3 linked regions of the Homo sapiens genome follow. The protein of the gene in region 3 purifies or fractionates together with the protein of the main gene of each other region. This does not show direct contact. Each region holds a gene or a part of one and is shown on either strand. Other genes may lie near its edges.

Region 1 (7,111 bases), on a different chromosome or scaffold from region 3:
AAGGAGACCTCGGGGGGAAGGAAGGTTACCTAGCTGTTCCTGCATTAAAGGACCTATGAGATGGTCTATAGCAGCAGCAGGAGGGATTTAAGCTAGATGTCCAGAAGTATTTCCCAATGGGAAGGCTGCTAAGCACTCTCCCAGGACAGGAATGTGATCTATGACTCACAGGTCTTATACTCTAAGTCCCCTGCTCAGCCCGCACTATGTTTATATATACGTATGCACAAGCTTGACTTTTCCATAAGTACACACAATTGAGGGAAACTGGTCTAGTATTTATTTGGTGAAACTTGATGTCCTCTCCCCTGGGTGCTGGGTCATGGTGCTGACCAGGCATCGCCTGAATGACTGGATTAGCAGCCATGTCAACAAGCCTTTGCTCTCCAGACAATGTGCCAAGCTGTAGGTAACAGGCTGGGGACACCAAGTCCCAAAGGAATTATAGAGATCGGTAATAGCCTAGTGGAGCACACTCTAAACGCCAAAGGTGTGGCTCAGCAGGAACCTAGCAACTCAGAGGGAGGTGTCCAAGAAGCCGATCACGGAGGCTCCGAGTGGGGAGGGGAGACTGCAGACCCAGCTTGAGGTGCACCTCATGGTTGTTTGGTTTCTAATGGGGGAGTTCTGGGCAGGCCCAAGAGGAGACATTTTGGGGTCCCTGGAACTGCTCTCTTTTCCCAAGAATCTGTCCTGAAATGGGTACCCAGAGCCACAGGCCTGTTAGAACTTGTCACATGGAGAACATGACTTTTAATTAGGGACAAGGTCTTGAGGAAGGGGCCTTCGCAGAGTCTCTTTTGCCCCCAAGAGCCTCTCACAGGCCAAGGATGGGGCTCCAGGAATCCCTAGCCCAGTGGAGAGCAGGGTCAAGGAAGGGGTAAGAGTTCATCCATCTGCCCTGAGATGGCATTTTATCTCCCAGAAGCTGCAGGCTCAGCTGTCCAGGCCCTCCTGGGCCAGGACCTTCTGGACCGAACACAGGCCCCAGTCCTCCTCCCCTGCAGGTCCAGGCTTAATGGTTTTACATGGTGAACAGTTCTCAGGGACCCAAACCTTGAGCCTCCCTGGATTAAATGAGGCTGAGCCCCTGAGTCTAGAAGTAACTGGGGGGCCTCCTTCCACCCTCTACCTCCATGTAGGGCTGCAGAAGAACCAGCAGGAACAAATATGGCAATTTAATTTTTACAGTTTCCAGATGGAAAGAAAGGAAACTTGTTTTAAGGGCTGTATGGCATGATGGTTAGGAACAAAAGGTGAAGGTTTGATTGCTAGCTGTGCCATCTACTAGCTTGTGGCCTTTCACACACGCACACACGCACACAAAAAAACCGTCAAGGATGAATGAGGGTTGATTTGATTCTTAAGGGCCTAAATCATCTGGAGAATGGGGACAAGCAATAACACCAACCTTGCAGGATTGACCTGAAGAATAAATGAACCAATAATATAAAATGCTTGGAACAACACCAGCACGTAGTAAGCACTAAAACGAAACAAACAAACAAAAGAGCTGGCTATTATTACTAAACACCCTTCCGGCAATGGCAGGGTCATCATTTCCACATAGGAAGAGTTTACAGCAGTGAGTACGTGGAAGGAAGATCTTCAAGACTTGTTTTGAAAACCGATTTGCACAGCAAGCAAACTTTTGTTCCTTTTTCAATTTTTTCTTATGCTGTAAGAGGATCACGGACATATTTTCTTCATAGAGTTTAAATGAAATGATACGTATAATGTGCTTAGAACTGTGCCTGTCACTTAGCAAGCACTCAGTAAATCCTACTTGTTTATTTGGGGTGGCTGGAGAGAGTGCTGGAGATTATAATGAAAGATATACAGTAGGGGCACCATTAGGCCCCCACTATGGCCAGGATGCCTCTTGTTAGGAGGTTCTGTTCTGTTCCATAGTCAACATTAGTCTTCCCTGCTATGGGGTAAACTGGCATTTAGACATAAGAATTTCCAGACAATCAATCAGGGTGTCAGACCTGGGCCAAGCTCCCAAGAAAGCTTCCTGCAGCTCTTCCCCCGGAGGTGCTCATTGGTCAAAAGAATGCACATCATGACCTCTGAAAGGTCCTTGCTGCCTCAGGACTCTGACTGCAGCATTTGAGCTCCTGGTCCAAAGACCAGCGCTATCCAGCCCACAATGGATGAGCTGGGTTTATGGCTGGGGAGAGACACGGGAGCTGGAATGTAAAACAAATGGACCGTAAGCACCTTGTGTGCTCTCTCTGGCTGTGGAGTATACAGACACACACTTTCACCTGCTCCCCTGCTCCAGGCCTGGCCTGGCCCCCTCCCAGAGGGGCCCCCCGGATTGGAGAAAGGGTCAGAGGACTCAGGAACACTGGGAGCACTCCCTTTACCATGGTAAGGAGTTGAACACACTATGCTGCCTCTGAAAACAACAGAACAGCAGAGTCAGCCTCGCCCCATTAGCCACCCACTCGGGACACTTTACCTCGTGGATCCCAAAGTGGGCATAGGAGTCGAAGTAATAATCTCTCGAGGTCATCTCCTCTGGGTTCAGCAGCTTGGACATCTTGCCCCGTCCTGGGCAGCTGGGTTGAGTGGACACATGATGGACGCATTGCACGGGCTTAGCAGGGACGACGGGCTGGGGGGGCTGGGAGGGGGGGCTGTTCACCTGAGGGGAAGAGAAGGGGGTCGGGTGTTAGGAGAGACAACGGGGTCCCGCCCTCGGAGGCTTGCGGTCCTCTTTCCTTCCCCCTCCCTGAGCCCGGCCTCAAGCAGCCACAGCAGCCCTTCCTGAAAGGGAGGTAGGTGAGCCCTTCCAGCTCCCAGCAGTTGGGCTCATGGCTGTGATCTGTCCAGAGATGGCAGTCCACCGAGGAGCCACACACACCTAGATTTCACCCACCTTCAGCTCTTATTAGCTAGGTGACCTGAGCAATGCAGGCCTCAGTTTCTGTATCTGTGAAATGGGGAAAATAGTATCTTCCTTTGAAGGCAAATAGGAAACATTCAATAAAGGGAAAGATGCATAGCACAGCATGGTGCCTGAGAGTGTAGATTCCGGAGCTGAATCCCAGCTCTGCCATTTCCCAGCTATACAACTTTGGGCAAACTTATGAACTTCTCAGTGCCTCAGTTTCCTTTTCTCTAAAATGGGAATAAAATGGTCCCTGCCTCCTAGAGTTGTCCTGAGGATTAGACAAGTTTGTATTTCAAAGTGCTTAGAAAAGGGCCAGGCATATAGTAAGAGTTTGTTAGAGGAAACGAAGTCCCACCTGCATCCTCAGGAACGTGAACCCATGGGCTTCTCTCCACTCAACAGGCAGCATCAAGCTAGAAGAGGATACGGCCCCCAAAATGCAGATGTCTTAGGTTCTGGTGTCTCCTACCTGTTGTCTTGCCCCCTAGTTTCTGATTCACAGTTCTACCCTGAATTCAGCACTGTGGATACCCACACTGATGGCCTCCACACAACCAATTATTGCTATTTCTGGGTGCCCCAATCCTGAGGCCCAGCCCAGCTCTACACCCACTGCTGCTGCCCATCACTGTCTGCTCCCTGGTCCTCCACAGGCTAGGCGGAGCAGGGAGAAGGAGATGGGGGTCCACAGAGCTTCTGGAGCCCAGAGACAGCAATTGGAGCCCAGAAGCTCAAACACTGCAACAGAAGCAGTTATGCCAGGAGACCTCCTCTGCCTGGAGTGCAGGAGACCCAGATGTACAAGGCACAGTAAAGGCCTCAAAGCAGGGCTGAACTAGAAAAATAAAAAAAGGAGTATTATCTAGTAGTCAGTCCTCTAGGGCTGGGAATCCAGGCTCCTGGGTCCTATCCTGGCTCTAGTAAAATTAAAAATAGATACTAGGAGGCAGATAGCGAACTGGCTGAAAGTACAAACCCTGGAGCCACAGTGCCTGACTCTGAAACCCAGCGCTTGTTGGCTGTGTGACCTTGGGAAATAATTTGTCATCACTGTGCCTCAGCTTTTCCTCCTCTATAGAACACAAATCATAATAAAACCTACCTGAAAAATTTGTCCAAAAGTTTGGAGGAGTTGATATATGGAAAGACTTTAGAACAGGCTGGCACATAGTAAGTGCTTATGATTATTACATACATCATGTCCTTGTTCTATGTCTCGATTTTCTTGTCTGTGAGCTGGGTCAGCTCAGACTTACTGTCTCCTTTCTAGCAAGAGAAACAGGGGAATCCTAGGACACAGCAAGATCAAGAAAGCCAAGTTATTTCAACCCCTCCGTGGAATCACTCCGCGCAGTCCCAAGACTGTTCTGTGTCCAGGGCTGCAGGGGAGTGAGCTGGGGGCAGTGGGATGGTCCCATCTTCCCAGTGTACCTAGGCTACCGCCCTTGGGAAATAAGCAGACTTCCCAGTTTAGCAACATCAGATTTCACGTCGGTGAGATCCCGGGCGGGCTGGCAAAGGCGAGTGGGGCTGCCTCATTAGAATGCAGCAGGTGTGCCCACTCTCAGCTTGGGATGTTGGTCACGGTCTCTGGGAGGCTAAAAATAGACTGTGTCAAGTGCACACTCCTGTGCAGGCTGCAGAATCACCTCTAAAGCTGAAGAAGGCTCCGTGCATGAAGCTGACCCCAATATCGACTCCATTTAAATATGTGAAGGAGAGGAAAAAGTCGGAGCTGGTCTGGGCATTGTGCATGGTCAAGGTCACAGGGGCCTCCAGCACCCCTTAGCTGTCACTCCACTCTGGTTCCAAGGCTCTCTTTTCCATGTGCTTCCTGGGACTCCACAGGCTAAGACTCCCCGGAGGCTGGGAGTGGGTGGGAAACGGCAGTGGCCTGTGATCCCTGAACATTCAGCGACATGGGGTGTTGCTTTTAATTCCACAACTGCCTACTGCACAGATCTCCAACAGCAAGGCAGCGTGCAGGTCCTGTGGAAGAAATAGACGTGTGGGAACTGTGCCCTCCCAGGACCCTGTTTTCTAGATTCTAAGACCCTTATTGTCTCTGATAGATGCTGGAATAAGGTTTGTTCTACAAGAGAAGTTCAAGCAAATTGTTCTGGAGGTTCACAGGAAAGAGAATTCACTTTAATGCAGAGAGTCAGGAAGCCCTGGGATAGCAGGAGGTGGGGTGAGGTGGGAGCTTTTTGAACGGATTTTGGCAGGTGGAGGAAGAGACGGCTTGAGCAACCAAAAGGCGGGAGAGCAGTGAGTTTGTTTGGGAGCAGCTTGGCTGAGACAGTGAGAGATTCAGTTGAAAGGAAATTATGGCCAGGCTAAGAGGTCGTAATTAAATACAAAAGACAACGGGGAGCTATTGCCGGTTTGTAACCAGGGAAGCAGTGACTTCTGTGTTTGGGCTCCTCTTTAGGAAGATAGATGTGGTAGCAGCACACAGGAGGGGCCAAGGAAAAGAAGGGAATGGAAGAGAGGCAAAGTATGAACTTTGGAGGCTATGTTCAAAGTCCAGTCAAGAAATAATGAGAGCCTGAACTACTGGGGTGTCCGAGGGGCTGCCTGCCAGAGAAAGTGCAGAAATAGACTCTACAGGCTTTGGCAACTGACAAAATGTAGGGGAAGAGAGAGGAGCTGGAATCAAAGATGACTTCAACATTTCAAGCCTGGGTGACTAGGGAAATGGTGGTGACATTAACAAAAATAAGCCAGTCAGCAGGCAGAGCAGGTTGGGGTGGGGGGAAATAATGAATTTCAATTTGGATATGCAGAGTTTGAAATGTCATTGAGTCATATAAGAGAAGATGTCTAGCAAGAAGACATTAATGCAGTTCCAGACAATAAATATCATAAACAAAATTAAAAGGCAAATGATAAACCGAGAAGTACGTTTTAACATATGTGGCAGACAAAGGTTAATGCCCTTAATACGTAGAGAGCTCTTACAAGCCAATACAAAAATAGATGAACACCCACAATGTAATATTGGGGAAAGGATTGGATAATCTGTCCACATGAGGCAAGTACATGTGAAATACAAATGGCAGGTTGATGTGCAACAAAAATGTTTAACCTCATTAGAAATCAGGTAAATTCAAATTCAAATAGAAAACTTACAGCTTTTAAATACCAGATAAGCTCTTCTCCCACCAAAACAACCACAGCTCTGCATATGTAAGAGTTGCAGAGAGATAGGTCCTTTCACACATTTCTAGTGGGAATGAAAATAGGTCAAGACTTTTAGAAAGGCCGTTTGGTAAAATGTACTTGAAGTGTTAAAGAGCACAAATCCGTTAACCCAGCAATTGAAGTTCTGTGGACTTTACCATAAGAAGAGAATCATGGATCATCATAATGATGTAGCTGTTGAGAATTTCATGACAATGCTGTCCTTAGTGACAAAAGGTAGGAGTCAACTGAAATGTTCCACAAAGTGAGACATTAAACTGTGGTGTAGCCACACAATAGAACACTATGCGGCCATTAAAGGTATTATGGGAAGAGTGTTTGATTACACAAAAATATGATCATGACAGATTGTTCCACCACTTCCAGGCTGCCCTTCCTCCAAGGATGTGTGGCCCGAGCATTGCACTCCGGTGTCCAAGCAAGGGCTCCGAAACAAAGTCAACCTCCATCCAGCCTGGCTGGGGCCCTCCACACCTCAGCCACCAGGGAGGACCCTGCTCAGGAAGCTGTGCAGATCACCTCACCTCTAGGGCTGAAGAAGGCTGTGTGCATGAAGCTGACCCCAGTATTGACTCCATTTAAATATATTAAGGAGAGGAAAAAGTCCTAGCTGGCCTGGGCATTGTGCACGGTCAAGGTCACAGGGGCCTCCAGCACCCATAAGCTGTCATTCAACTCTGATTCCAAGGTTCTCTTTTCCATGGGGCTCCCTGAGACTCTCCCCAACAGCCAGCTTATGAAGTGTCTGCCGTGTGCCATGCAGGAGGCAAAAGGATGCATGGATTTGGGGGCATTCATTTCAATAGCCACAGGTCATGGGGACAAATAAATGACTGGCCCAGACCCTGGTCTGCAGCCTGGCACTCTGCCCATTGGCTGACAGGCATACCCTCTCCCTGAAGGCTGGGAGTGGGTGGGAAGCAGCCGTGGCCTGTGATCCCTGAACATTCAGCTACATGGGGTGATGCTTTTAAATTCTACAACTACCTGCTGAACTTCTACAAC
Region 2 (7,858 bases), on a different chromosome or scaffold from region 3:
CAAGCCCTTTTTTTGAGACAGTCTTGCTCTGTTGCCCAGGCTGGAGTGCAGTGGCACGATCTCGGCTCACTGCAACCTCTACCTCTTAGGCTCAAGTGATTCTCTTGCCTTAGCCCCCCGAGTAGTTGGGATTACAGGCACCCGATACCACACCTGGCTATTTTTTGTATTTTTTAGTAGACAGGGTTTCACCATGTTAGCCAGGCTGGTCTTGAACTCCTGGCCTTAAATGATCCACCTGCCTCCCCAAATGCTGGGATGATTGGCGTGAGTGACTGTGCCCAGCCCCTCAAGCCTTTTTTTTTTTTTTTTTTGAGATGGAGTCTCACTCTGTCGCTCAGGCTGGAGTGTAGTGGCATGATCTGAGTTAACTGCAACCTCCGCCTCCCGGGTTCAAGCGATTCTCCTCCCTCAGCCTCCCGAGTAGCTGGGATTACAGGCACATGCCACCATGCCCGACTAATTTTTTGTATTTTTAGTAGAGATGGGGTTTCACCGTGTTAGCTAGGATGGTCTCGATCTCCTGACCTTGTGATCCGCCCGCCTCGGTCTCCCAAAGTGCTGGGATTACAGGCGTGAGCCACTGCGCCCATCCTCAAGCCCTTTTTATAAGGGTATGAATTCCATTAATGAGGGTAGAGCCCTCTTGGCCTAATCACCTCGAAAAAGGCTCCACCTCTTACGACCACCACAATGGAGACTAACCATGGCACCAATCCACTTGTGTCTTGCAGGACATCGTGTGTATTTTGCTTGATGAATATCAGTTACTGAGTTTTGTAATTCCAGATCTATCTAAACACCACTCATCAAATCCTGCCAGCACCCCGGTATAATCCTTAAAGACAACAAACATTTCCTTTGTGAGCTAAACTGTCTCTCCTGACTTGTGAACTTCACAGGATGGTTGAGAGGGTCAAAGGAGGTGATAGTCCCAGCAAATGGTTCCTGTTGAACTCTTACTCTATGCGGTGCTAAGTGCTCCACGTGCATCAGCTCACTGGTACCCCAGCAACTCCAAGAAGGGACTGTTGTGATCCCCACTTTACAGTTAGGGAAACTGAGTCCCAGAAAGGTGGCATCACATTTCCAGAGCCACTCAGCTAGGAAGAAAGGGAACAAACCAGGTTGTGATTTATAATCCCAACCTCCTCTTCTCCCTCCCAACTCCTGATGCTGCAAAGCCTCTGGAGACAGCAGAGCTGCCCCTTTGTCCCACGTGGCTGCGCCCTGATGAACACACCGGACTTGTCCAAGGCAGCCTCTTGGTCCTCAGGGTCAGCTGGAGAAGCATTTCAATTAGACAGACAGCATGGCCCTGGGTGCCAGGCTGCTTGTTAGACGGCCCTTGGAGAGATGCCGGGACAGCCTGACTCTTTCGGGCAGTGGTGGTGACATTCCTTGTGGTGGGACTTTCCTGCCTTAGGCCAGGCCTCTTCAGCCTGGGGTATGTGACCCTCTGAGGTAGGTGAAGACTTCCTAAGGGTGCATAAGAGTGGATCACTCTAAGGATCCTAATTCCAGAAACTCAACCTCTTTCTTCTTTCCTCCCTGGGTATGGCACCGGTGGCCCCAGCGGCCCCATGCTCCTTCTCATTTCCCCTTTCCCATTGGACTCTGGCTACTTGGAAAGGGGAAAAGTCACTTAGTAATTTCTTCCTATGGATATATGAAGTAAATGGAAAAAAAAAAGAGAACCCCAACCATCCTATTAAGAGATACATTTTCCATACACTTTTAGTTATTTAATTACTTATAAAAAGTTTGTGGGCTAAGAGTGGTGGTTCACATCTGTAATCCCAGCACTTTGGGAGGCCGAGGCAGGCGGATCACTTGAGGTCAGGAGTTCCAGACCAGCCTGGCCAACACGGTGAAACTGCATCTCTACTAAATCTCTACTAAAACTACAAAAAGTAGGCCGAGCGCGGTGGCTACACCTGTAATCCCAGCACTTTGGGAGGCCGAGGTGGGCAGATCACGAGGTCAAGAGTTCGAGACCAGCCTGGCCAACATGGTGAAACCCCGTCTCTACTAAAAACAGATGGGCATGGTAGTGCACACCTGTAATCCCAGCTACTGGGGAGGCTGAGGCAGGAGAATGGCTTGAACCCAGGAGGCAGAGGTTGCAGTGAGCGGAGATCATGCCACTGCACTCCAGCCTGGGTGACAAAGCGAGACTCCATCTCAAAAAAAAAAAAAAAAAAAAAATAGCTGGGCATCGTGATGCACACGTGTAATCCCAGCTACTCGGAGGCTGAGGCAGGAGAATTGCTTGAACCTAAGAGGCAGAGGCTGCAGTGAGCTGAGATCATGCCACTGCACTCTGCACTCCAGCCTGGGCAACAGAGTGAGCTGCTGTCTCAAAAAAAAAAAAAGTTTAAGCCACTTCCCACGGCCAACTTCTATTCTTTTTTTTTTTCTTCTTTTTTTTGAGACGGAGTCTTGCTCTGTCGCCCAGGCTGGAATGCAGTGGCGCAATCTTGGCTCACTGCAACCTCTGCCTCCTGGGTTCAAGCCATTTTCCTGTCTCAGCCTCCCGAGTACCTGGGATTACAGGCGCGCACCACCACACCTGGCTAATTTTTGTATTTTTTGTAGAGACGGGATTTCACCATGTTGGCCAGGCTGGTCTCGAACTCCTGACCTCAGGTGACCTGCCTGCCTCGGCCTCCCAAAGTCCTGGGATTACAGGCATGAGCCAGTGCACCTGGCCCTTCCATTCATTCTTTAGATCGCAACTGAGATAGGGAGGAGAAGATCCCTCCCCACCCACAGGCCTCTGTGCATCCTGCATTACAGCCTTGGCCCACCCTGGACATAAGCTGCCTGCTTGCTCATCTGTCTCCCTGACTAGTTACCTGGACCACGGCAACAGCCTCTTCACTGGCTCTCTGCCTTCCATTTCTTGTGAACCCAGCAGCCAGAATGATCTCTGATCTGACCATGTTGCTTCCTGTGTAAAACCCTCTGTGGCTCCCTATTACCCCCCAGAACAGAGGCCAAACTCCTTACAACATTCGCAAGGACTTCACCTTCCAGTCTCTGCCTGATTCTTCATCCCTATCTCTCACCACCTTCCGCCATGTGGAATCCTTTCAGTTCTCCAAACTGACTGTTGTTTTCTGCCTAAAACACTCTACTCATTTTTTGCCTGGCCTAACTCCCTCAGTGCCCAGCTTAGACAAAAGCCTTCCCTGTACCACTGTCCGATACTTCTCTGCCCACTCAGCATTGAGTCTCACCCCTTTGTCGGCCTCCCCCATAGACCGTCAGCTCTGAGAGGGCAGGGGCCAACTCCGTCCCCTCCTCTGCTGTCGTTCCTGGCATCCAGCAAGGGGCCTGCCACCTAGCGTGCTGAATGAAAGAATGGACCTCGGGATTTCAGTGTGGAAGCCTGGGCAGGTCTGTCTTGGGGCCGCTGCATCCCCAGTGCTCAGTCTAGGGCGCAGCACGGAGAGTTCGCAACTGTTTCAGGAAGAAGGCAGGCGGGTGGGCCGACCCAAGAAACGCACATTATACCTCCGGCGAAGTGAAGGGAGGGATAACAAAGCAAAGCTTGAGGGCTCCGAGAAGCTCTGAAGAAAACAAATCCAGCCATAAGCCCACTCCTGTAACCCCAGGCTTTGGAAGACGGAGGCAGGTAGATCGCTTGAGGTCAGGAGTTCGAGACCAGCTTGGGCCACATGGCGAAACCCCGTCTCTACTAAAAACACAAAAGTTGGCTGGGCGTGTTGGCGGGCACCTATAATCCCAGCTACTCCAGCAGCTGAGATGGGAGAATCGCTTGAACCTGGGAGGAAGAGTTTGCAGCGAGCCGAGATCCTGCCACTGCGCTCCAGCCGGGGCGACAGAGCCAGACCCTGTCCCCAATATACATATCAGATAAGAAAAAAATATAAGAAAGTTTAAAAAAATTTTTTTTGGCTTTTTTTTGTTTTTTTTGAGACGGAGTCTCGCTCTGTCGTCCAGGCTGGAGTGCAGTGGCACGATCTCGGCTCACTGCAAGCTCCGCCTCCCAGGTTCACGCCATTCTCCTGCCTCAGCCTCCCGAGTAGCTGGGACTACAGGCGCCCGCCACCATGCCCGGCTGATTTTTTCTATTTTTCGTAGTGATGGGATTTCACTGTGTTAGCCAGGATGGTCTTGATCTCCTGACCTCGTGATCCGCCTGCCTCGGCCTCCCAAAGTGCTGGGATTACAGGCGTGAGCCGCCGCGCCCGGCCAGCCTTTTTTTTTTTTTTTGAGACAGTTTCGCTCTTGTCGCCCAGGCTGGAGTGCAGTGGCACGATCTCGGCTAACTGCAACCTCCGCCTCCTGGGTTCAAGAGATTCTCCTGCCTCAACCTCCCGAGTAGCTGGGATTACAGGCGCCCGCCACCACACCCATCTAATTTTTTGTATTTTTAGTAGAGACGGGGTTTCGCCACGTTGAGCAGGCTGGTCTCGAACTCCTGACATCAGGTGATCCGCCCGCTTCAGCTTCCCAAAGTGCTGGGATTACAGGCGTGAGCCACGGCGCCCGGCCAAAAAAAAAAAATTTTTTTTTTTTTTTTTAGATATTTTTTCACTCTTGTTGCCCAGGCTGGAGTGCAATGGCGTGATCTCGGCTCGGCCTCCCAAAGTCCTGGGATTACAGGCGTGAGCCACCGCGCCCGGCCCGAAAAAATTTTTTTAAAAGAAAAGGGAAACAAAACAGTCTCCTACACCTTCGGACCACTCCCAAGAACGATGGCACCGCCCTCCTCTCCGCCCCTCACCAACATGGCCGCCCCCAAGGGAGTGGGCGGGTCTGCGGGGCGGAAGTGACGCACGAGAGGAAGTCCGTCCTGCCGCTTGGCCGCGGGGCGCCTGGCTCAGTGGCTTCTGCGGGCTTCGAGGAGCGGGATGTTGCGGGCTGGGTGGCTCCGGGGCGCGGCGGCGCTGGCGCTGCTGCTGGCGGCCCGAGTGGTGGCGGCGTTCGAGCCCATCACCGTGGGCCTAGCCATCGGGGCCGCGTCGGCCATCACCGGCTACCTGTCCTACAATGACATCTACTGCCGCTTCGCCGAGTGCTGCCGCGAGGAGCGGCCGCTCAACGCTTCGGGTACGGCGCGCGCGCGAGCTGTGGGTCGGCGCTGCGGGGGGCGCGGGGGCGCGGGGGCGCGGAGGGACGGCCTCGTGGGCGCCTGGCACGGACCGGGCCCGTGGCATCTAGACGGCGGTGGTCCCAGCTGGGGTGGGCGGGGAGCGGATGGGGCGGCCCCGGAACCGTTCGCGGGAACGCAGAAGCGGTGCCTTCGCAAACAGTCTCCAGATCGTGGGGCTGCCCCAGCGCCTTTCTAAAGCTCCCGTTCCTTGGGATCACAGGTGGAAGAAACGGAAAGTAGGCGGGCGGCCCTTCTGCGCCCTGCCAACCCTATTAAGTAGTTTTCAGACGTGCTGCGTCGCCCAGAAAGCCCACATTTGGCCCCTGGTTTTCCTGCAGGTCAGCAAGGGTGGCTGGGATTAGCAAGCGCTCAGTCAAGCGATGGTTCATCTCTGAATGAATGAACATTTAGCTTCCTTATCAGACCCCGAAGCGTTAAGGACCTCCACATAATCTTGAAAGTGGCATCGTTTGACTGCCTCGGCCCTAGGGTGTGGCAGACACCCTGCTGTGTCCCTGGATAATCTGTGCTTCTTGCTTTGGCCAGCTAAGAAAGTGCTGCGTTGCTGATGCATTTTTAAGGTCTGTTTCTCTCTTTGTTCTGGGGCTGTTCTTGCAGCTCTCAAGCTGGATTTGGAGGAGAAGCTGTTTGGACAGCATCTAGCCACGGAAGTGATTTTCAAGGCGCTGACTGGCTTCAGGAACAACAAAAATCCCAAGAAACCACTGACCCTTTCCTTACACGGCTGGGCTGGCACAGGCAAGAATTTTGTCAGTCAAATTGTGGCTGAAAATCTTCACCCAAAAGGTCTGAAGAGTAACTTTGTCCACCTGTTTGTATCGACTCTGCACTTCCCTCATGAGCAGAAGATAAAACTGTACCAGGCAAGAGAACCCGCTATTATCTCGTCTGCAGGCCAGTCGGACTGGTCCGGGTGACCTGCTCACTAACTCTGGCCTCTGCTTCTCTTTCCTTTGTGTTGCTGTAGCCCCCGGCTCCACTGAGTTAAGGCACACTTAGTCCAGGTAGTTACAAAGCTCTCCTACAACATTTCTCTTACTTGGTTCCAAAACAGTCCAGTGGGGTAGGGGATGTTATTTCCATTAAAAGATGGGGAGCCAAGGGCCTGGCGCCGTGGCTCACGCCTGTAATCCCAGCATTTTGGGGAAGCCGAGGCGGGCGGATCATTTGAGGCCAGGAGTTTGAGACCAGCCTGGCCAACATGGTGAAACCCCATCTCTACCTAAAAGTACCAAAATTACCTGAGCACGGTGGCACGCACCTGTAATCCCAGCTACTTGGGAGGCTGAGGCAGGAGAATCGCTTGAACCTGGGTGGCAGAGGTTGCAGTGAGCTGAGATCGCGCCACCGTACTCGGTCTCAAAAAAAAAAAAAAAAAAAAGGCCTGGCACAGTGGCTCACGCCTGTAATCCCAGCACTTTCGGAGGCCGAGGGGGGCGGATCACGAGGTCAGGAGATGGAGACCATCCTGGCTAACACGGTGAGACCCCGTCTCTACTAAAAATACAAAAAATTAGCCGGGGATGGTGGCGGGCACCTGTTGTCCCAGCTACTCGGGAGGCTGAGGCAGGAGAATGGCCTGAACCCGGGAGGCGGAGCTTGCACTGAGCCGAGATCGCGCCACTGCACTCCAGCCTGGGCGACACAGTGAGACTCTGTCTCAGAAAAAAAAAAAAAAAAGAGAGATGTAGTCAGGGCCAGGTGCAGTGGCTCACGCCTGTAATCCCAGCACTTTGGGATCCGCCAAGGCGGGCGGATCACCTGAGGTCGGGAGTTCGAGACCAGCCTGACCAACATGGAGAAACCCCGTCTCTACTGAAAATACAAAATTAGCCGGGCGTGATGGCGTGCGCCTGTAATTCAAGCTACTTGGGAGGCTGAGGTTGCAGTCAGCTGAGAATGGGCCACTGCACCCCAGCCTGGGCAACAGAATGAGACTCTGTCTCAAAAAAAAAGAAAAAAAAAAAAGATGGAGCCTGGAGCCCAGAGGCAAGGTGACTTACTCCTACAATCTTTGTAGCAGAACAGGACCTTTGTAGCAGAACCAAAACCTCCCAACTCCCAGTTGACATGGTAGCCACCTTCTCTGGTGAGTGAAGGGATTCCACATCCCCAGCAGTGCAGTTGGTGAGAAGGGGCAGTCAGTCTTCAAGGATTTGCTCCGGTGTGGCTTCATTCAATGCTGCCCACCTCTGGTGCAGCCTCAGCTTTGCCTCTGCTCTTTGCAATGTAGCCTAGAGGTCTTTTTTCTCCTTAACAGGTTTTATTCCCTTTGTTCCTCCCATCCTTCATGTCCTTGGCATTGCTTTCTTCAAAGGAAGCCTCAAAGAACTGAACCTTGAGACTGTTTCTCCTTTTGAGATATTGTTTCCACATTCATTTTATATTAAGTTGTCTAGGAGGGTTAGTTCTCATTTAAATGAATGTTGTCCTTGTCAAGGTTAACATTCCCACTGGCAACATAGCAAGACTCCATCTCTACAAAAAATAAAAAAATTAGCCAGGTGTAGTGGCATGCACCTGTAGTCCCAGCTACTTGGGAGGCTGAGATGGGAGGATCGCTTGAGCCCGGGAGGCTGAGCCTACAATGAACCATGGTCATGTCACTGCATTCCAGTCTGGGCGACAGAGTAAGACTCTATCTCAAAAAAAAAAAAAAAAAATTCCTCCTGTTAGGTGGGGACTGAAGAAAGAAATAGAAACTTAACTGAA
Region 3 (5,547 bases):
CCTCAGCCTGAACTCTGGTACCTTCCAAAAGTCCTCCTCTCCCTTCCAGCTCTGCCCCCTCAACCCTCATGCTAGTCCCTCCTTCCCCATCAGGCAGGAGGATGGGTGACTGGAGAAAGAAGGTGGAGTGCTTGAGTCCCATTGTCCTTGCAGTTGTCTCCTGGCTAGTCCTCACCGCCATCCCATGCCCCATTACAGCAGACACCCTCCACTGTGCGAGAACACTGTGGAGTCGCCACAGGGCTAAGTTGCAGGCTTCCCGCCAGAGGCTGCGCCCTCTCTGGCAGAATTCTCCAACTAGACCTCTGCTCCCACCCTCATGGCACCCCTGGCTTCCTCTTGTAATTGCACTCCGCTTGCCATACAAGGCAGGCCTTTGGACAGGGCCTCATCAAGGCAGCTGTGCCTAGTTATTTTCTGTAAGATCCCTTCTGTCCATGGGAAACCCCCTAAGCCATTGCTGCTTACTCCTTATCCTGGTCTCCTAGGTGGCTCTAGTCAGCCTTCAAAATTTAGAATTCTCCAGAAAGGAAATAGACACCAATTTCCATGTTTATACATGTCTCCAAACTTCAGGTTACATCTAACTCCTCTCAAAAATTTGCTCAAGAATTCTCTTCACTTTGCTGCACTTGGATAGGCTTACCAGTTTCTGTCATTCAGCAGACACCCATCTGGGAAATGACCTACCTATCTCTCAACTTTGGTGACATGCCCAATATTTATGAGTGGATGATTTAGAGACCCTCTCACTTGGCTTTGGATGCAGAGAATTCTCTTCCCTATACCCTCCCCATGGGAGAGAATGAGGTAGCACTCCCTAGGAGGCCAGCAACTCAGGACTCCCACCGCTTCTCTTCAATGACTCCCTTCATTTCTGTTTTCATAGGCGAGAGGAAGGTTAAACGTGCAATTTGGCTGCCTCTAAGCAAGCTCCAGCGCGGTGTATCAGGAGCTGCTTGGCTGCTGTTTTCAGAATATAGAAATGTGTAATGTAATGCCTGCTTCCTTTTAAGTACAAGTGTCCATTGCATGTCTACTGTGAGGCCATAATTTCACTGGCCTACAGAAAATAAGATTAAATGTCCATAAATTTTGGCCAATTTGTCTGGAAGAGAAAATACTTAAATATGTGCAACAAGTGTTGGCGTAGCAGCATGGCAAAGCACTAATACTTCAGGCATAGAAAACGGGCAGGTTCAAATGCCAGCTTTTTCATTTACAAAACTGGTTACTTTTAATGGGCTCTAAGTTATTGGGCAAGTTGCAGATTTATGTGTAAAATAAGGTGAATAAAAGGAACCCATGGGTAAAAAGGTTGACAAACCCTTTCCCTTTCTGAGAATTTAATCTTTGGTTAAATGTTTTAGCTGAGATTCTCTAATAATTTAATAAGAGTAAAATGTCTCTAACATTATTAGGAACTTTGCTTATGGTTGAAAACTTCTCTTGATGGGTGAATTATATCTATACTGGAAGAACTATAAATACATGCTAGGAAGCTATGTTTTGAACTTCCCTGAGCACAGTGACTCTTGTAACTCTCATGTTCCTTGCAGGGAATCTGGAAGCTAAACCCCAGAGTTGCTACAAGAGACATTGGCTCCTGTGAGTCCAGGTGGCTTCTATAACTGCTCAAGATGCCATCTCCTTGCCCTGGGACCTCCCTAGGTGACAGTTTGCAGTGTTCCATGAATTGCTGCATAGACTTCCACTAGGTGGAAGGCCCAACATTGTCCCTCTGGCAAGCGAAGTTTTCCATTCTTCTGAGTAGACTAGTGTCCCAGTGAGGCCCATGGCAGTCCTGTGAGCCCGAGAGGTCATTTGAACCAGCTAAGAACAAGACCACTGGTGGGCATTGCAGCACCTAACCCTAAATCATATCATTGCTAGGAGGAGTAAATTAGGTAATGCAGGTAAACCACTTGGAACAGATCCTGGCACATTAAAAGTGCTCAATAAAGGGTAGATTTCACTAACTATTTAGGTGACTTTGTCCAAGTTACTTAACCCCTGCATGCAAGTTACTTCATCTATAAGGAGGTTGCTATAAACAATCCTAGCCTAATTTTCACCAAGTGCTTAAGTGCACCAGCACTCTTTTAAGTTCTTTACATATATTAACTTATTTAGTCATTAGAACACCACCACATGGAGTAAACCATCATCTTCTCCAGATGAAGAGAAATTAATCAGTTGTCCAAGATCATATGACTAGCAATGGAAAGACAATCTAAACTAAGCAATCCAGCTCCAGATTCTTTTTTTCTTCACCACTGCATGCTGCCTCTCAGAAAGCTCATTTTCTTTGTACAGTCTAAGTTCCTTCTAAGCTCTGATATTCTGTGGTCAATGTAGACTTTCCTTCTCCAACTTTCTCTCTGCAACATGAGAGTAAGGAACAGCTAAACCGCAAAAGGCAATGAGCTTAGCAGGAGAGTCTTAGTTTGTTTGGATATTCCCTCCAGAAAGATTCTCCTGTTATCATGGTATTCCGTTTCACTCATATAGGTCAAATGTTCCTCCCTTACAGTAAAGGAATCAAGGGGTTAACCCTCAAGAGCCAGAGTCACCCTTGCCTTGCAAGTTAAATCACTCCTCTCTCCACTACAAAGCTGCATCTTGGTTCTTCCATGAACCTGCCCTAGACAAGTCATTCTTATCACTGCCATGTGGACCAGCGAAATGGCACCATGGCTCCTATGCCTTCCCCTTTTATGTGTCTGAAACACATTTTTTCCCTAAAGCCTCAAGCTCCTTCATACCTCTGTCCCCATTCACTCCTCTCCCCAGAACCTTACCCACGTTGAAGGGAAATGGGGAAGGAGAGAGGAAAGTTTACCATATTCTGTGACTATTTTATACCAAAATTATGCCATGCTTTCTAAGCAAAATTATGATATCCTTTATAAGATATCAGTTGTTTCTTCACTAATAAAAATAATTTTACACTGCTCATTCTAATATTTTGCTGGTCCAGCCACTTCCCTGGTAGTCATGACCCCACTCTGCCCAGCCAAGGTCAAAGTAGCAACCTCTGGCCTTGAAACAGAGCCAGGTCACTTGGCCCACATTGAGATGGAACCCATGGCCTTGCCTACGCATCTCTGATCTCCAGAAAACTTTTCTTCTAGAGATCCAGGACTGAGTGATTCAGGCAACCATTACATGATGAGAAATGTCTCTAAATCCATCTCATCCCCAAGTATGTTTTCCTAGGCTCCAACATGGCAATACCCTGCAGTCCTACAGCAATCAAGTTAGCTTTCATTTCACGTGAAATAGATGTGCGAGTATCTTTTTACATAACGGGGAATACCTCCTTATCATTAAAAATATTCCACTACCGGCTGGGCCCGGTGGCTCACGCCAGTAATCCCAGCACTTTGGGAGGCCGAGGCGGGCGGATCACGATGTCAGGAGATCGATACCACGGTGAAACCCTGTCTCTACTAAAACTACCAAAAAAAAAAAAAATTAGCGGGATGCGGTGGCGGGCATCTGTAGTCCCAGCTACTGGGAGGCTGAGGCAGGAGAATGGCGTGAACCCGGGAGGTGGAGCTTGCAGTGACCCGAGATCACGCCATTGCACTCCAGCCTGGGCGACAGAGCGAGACTCCGTCTCAAAAAAAAAAGAAAAAGAAATGAAAGGAAAAAAAAATATTCCACTGCCGTGATCAGTGTAGCGATAACACAGTAAACTTGCTCCTCACAGGACCACATGCAAAGGGCCAATGTGCCAGCAGATCTGAGCTGAGAATCATCCTGGTGGGCAAAACAGGAACTGGCAAAAGTGCTGCAGGGAACAGCATCCTCAGGAAGCAAGCATTTGAATCGAAGCTGGGTTCCCAGACCTTGACTAAGACTTGCAGCAAAAGTCAGGGAAGCTGGGGAAATAGAGAGATTGTCATTATTGACACACCAGATATGTTTTCTTGGAAGGACCACTGTGAAGCTCTGTACAAAGAGGTGCAGAGGTGCTACTTGCTGTCTGCACCAGGACCCCATGTGCTGCTCCTGGTGACTCAGCTGGGCCGCTATACCTCACAGGACCAGCAGGCTGCACAGAGGGTGAAGGAGATCTTTGGAGAGGATGCCATGGGACACACAATTGTCCTCTTTACCCACAAGGAAGACCTCAATGGTGGCTCCCTGATGGATTACATGCACGACTCAGATAACAAAGCCCTAAGCAAGCTGGTGGCAGCATGTGGTGGGCGAATCTGTGCCTTTAATAACCGTGCTGAAGGGAGCAATCAGGATGACCAAGTGAAGGAACTAATGGACTGTATTGAGGATCTGTTGATGGAGAAAAATGGTGATCACTATACCAATGGGTTGTACAGCCTAATACAGAGGTCTAAATGTGGACCTGTGGGATCAGATGAAAGAGTAAAGGAATTCAAACAGAGCCTTATAAAGTACATGGAAACTCAAAGAAGTTACACAGCCTTGGCTGAAGCAAACTGCCTAAAAGGAGCCTTAATCAAAACACAACTGTGTGTTTTATTTTGTATTCAGTTGTTTCTCAGATTGATAATTCTGTGGCTTTGCATACTGCACAGCATGTGCAATTTGTTTTGTTGCTTACTCTTTAGTATGTGCAATTTATTCTGCAGTTTGCTGTTTATTATACCCAAAAAGTTAATGATATTTTTGAGAACAGTTATTAGACTAGAACGCAAGACTCCTAGGTTATAGTTACAGATCCCAGTTATTATTTACTCACTATCATTTAGTGGGTGAATCACAGTAATTTCCCTGTAAAATGTGGTACCTGAAGTCATATTTGAGATTCTATGAAATGTTTAAATCTGAACATCACTCCAATTATTAATGAACCAAATCATACGATAAGTTACTGTTTGCATTGAAATATAATATCAAAGCCTTTTGAAATCTGTAAACATAAAATTCCTCTCATTTTCAAATATCTAAAGCCAGTTTTATGTTCCTAAAATCTCATTTTCTTCTTTCTAGTACTACTATTTCTACTGAATATAATGAAAATGGCAATAAAATAATATTACATAAACTGTAAAGTTCCTTTGATCATATGTTGTTAATTCTCTTCTATAGTTTTCTCCTTAGAAAATGGTAAGTGGACATGACTCATGTTAGCCAGATTTTAGCCCTGACGTCCTACAGATTTATCACTGAAACATAAGTAAAGACAAATGTCAGAAAAGATAGCAAATTGGACTGGATATTCTGAAGCATCATCTTGCTAGATGCAAATAGAGGCTACATTTATTAAAAGAAACAGAATTTTTATAATTGATGAGTTCACCAGAAAAATAAAGAAAATTCCAAAGGTAGAGCAAACAATATTTTTTTTTAAATGAGGAGCACAAACTGGAGTTGAGGCCCATGAGGAATACATGAACAAGGAAGGCAGAGGTGACCGATAGACAAATGCCGGTACCAATCCTAAGATGAAGAAATCAATCTTGGGCTGTCAGTAAAATTGGAGAGCTGATTTGGAGTGTTCTGTATTAATTTAGGACCTTCCAGGAGACTAAAGTTATCCAAAATTAGTTGAATTAT

Evidence for each region.
Region 1: the proteins of GIMAP2 (region 3) and PRMT8 purify together in Homo sapiens (affinity purification with mass spectrometry; 2 studies listed by BioGRID and IntAct, with this or other methods). This does not show direct contact.
Region 2: the proteins of GIMAP2 (region 3) and TOR1B purify together in Homo sapiens (affinity purification with mass spectrometry; 3 studies listed by BioGRID and IntAct, with this or other methods). This does not show direct contact.

What each region holds. Positions count from the first base shown.
Region 1 is NC_000012.12:3,536,148-3,543,258, reverse strand, and holds part of PRMT8 (protein arginine N-methyltransferase 8), read right to left. Parts: intron 2,654-7,111; coding exon 2,468-2,653; intron 1-2,467. UniProt on the Homo sapiens protein: S-adenosyl-L-methionine-dependent and membrane-associated arginine methyltransferase that can both catalyze the formation of omega-N monomethylarginine (MMA) and asymmetrical dimethylarginine (aDMA) in proteins such as NIFK, myelin basic protein, histone H4, H2A and H2A/H2B dimer.
Region 2 is NC_000009.12:129,798,330-129,806,187, forward strand, and holds the start of TOR1B (torsin-1B isoform 1 precursor), read left to right. Parts: upstream 1-4,854; 5' UTR 4,855-4,883; coding exon 4,884-5,082; intron 5,083-5,743; coding exon 5,744-6,009; exon of another isoform or gene 6,010-6,150; intron 6,151-7,858. UniProt on the Homo sapiens protein: May serve as a molecular chaperone assisting in the proper folding of secreted and/or membrane proteins. Plays a role in non-neural cells nuclear envelope and endoplasmic reticulum integrity. May have a redundant function with TOR1A in non-neural tissues.
Region 3 is NC_000007.14:150,688,600-150,694,146, forward strand, and holds the end of GIMAP2 (GTPase IMAP family member 2), read left to right. Parts: intron 1-3,715; coding exon 3,716-4,701; 3' UTR 4,702-5,042; downstream 5,043-5,547. UniProt on the Homo sapiens protein: The heterodimer formed by GIMAP2 and GIMAP7 has GTPase activity. In contrast, GIMAP2 has no GTPase activity by itself.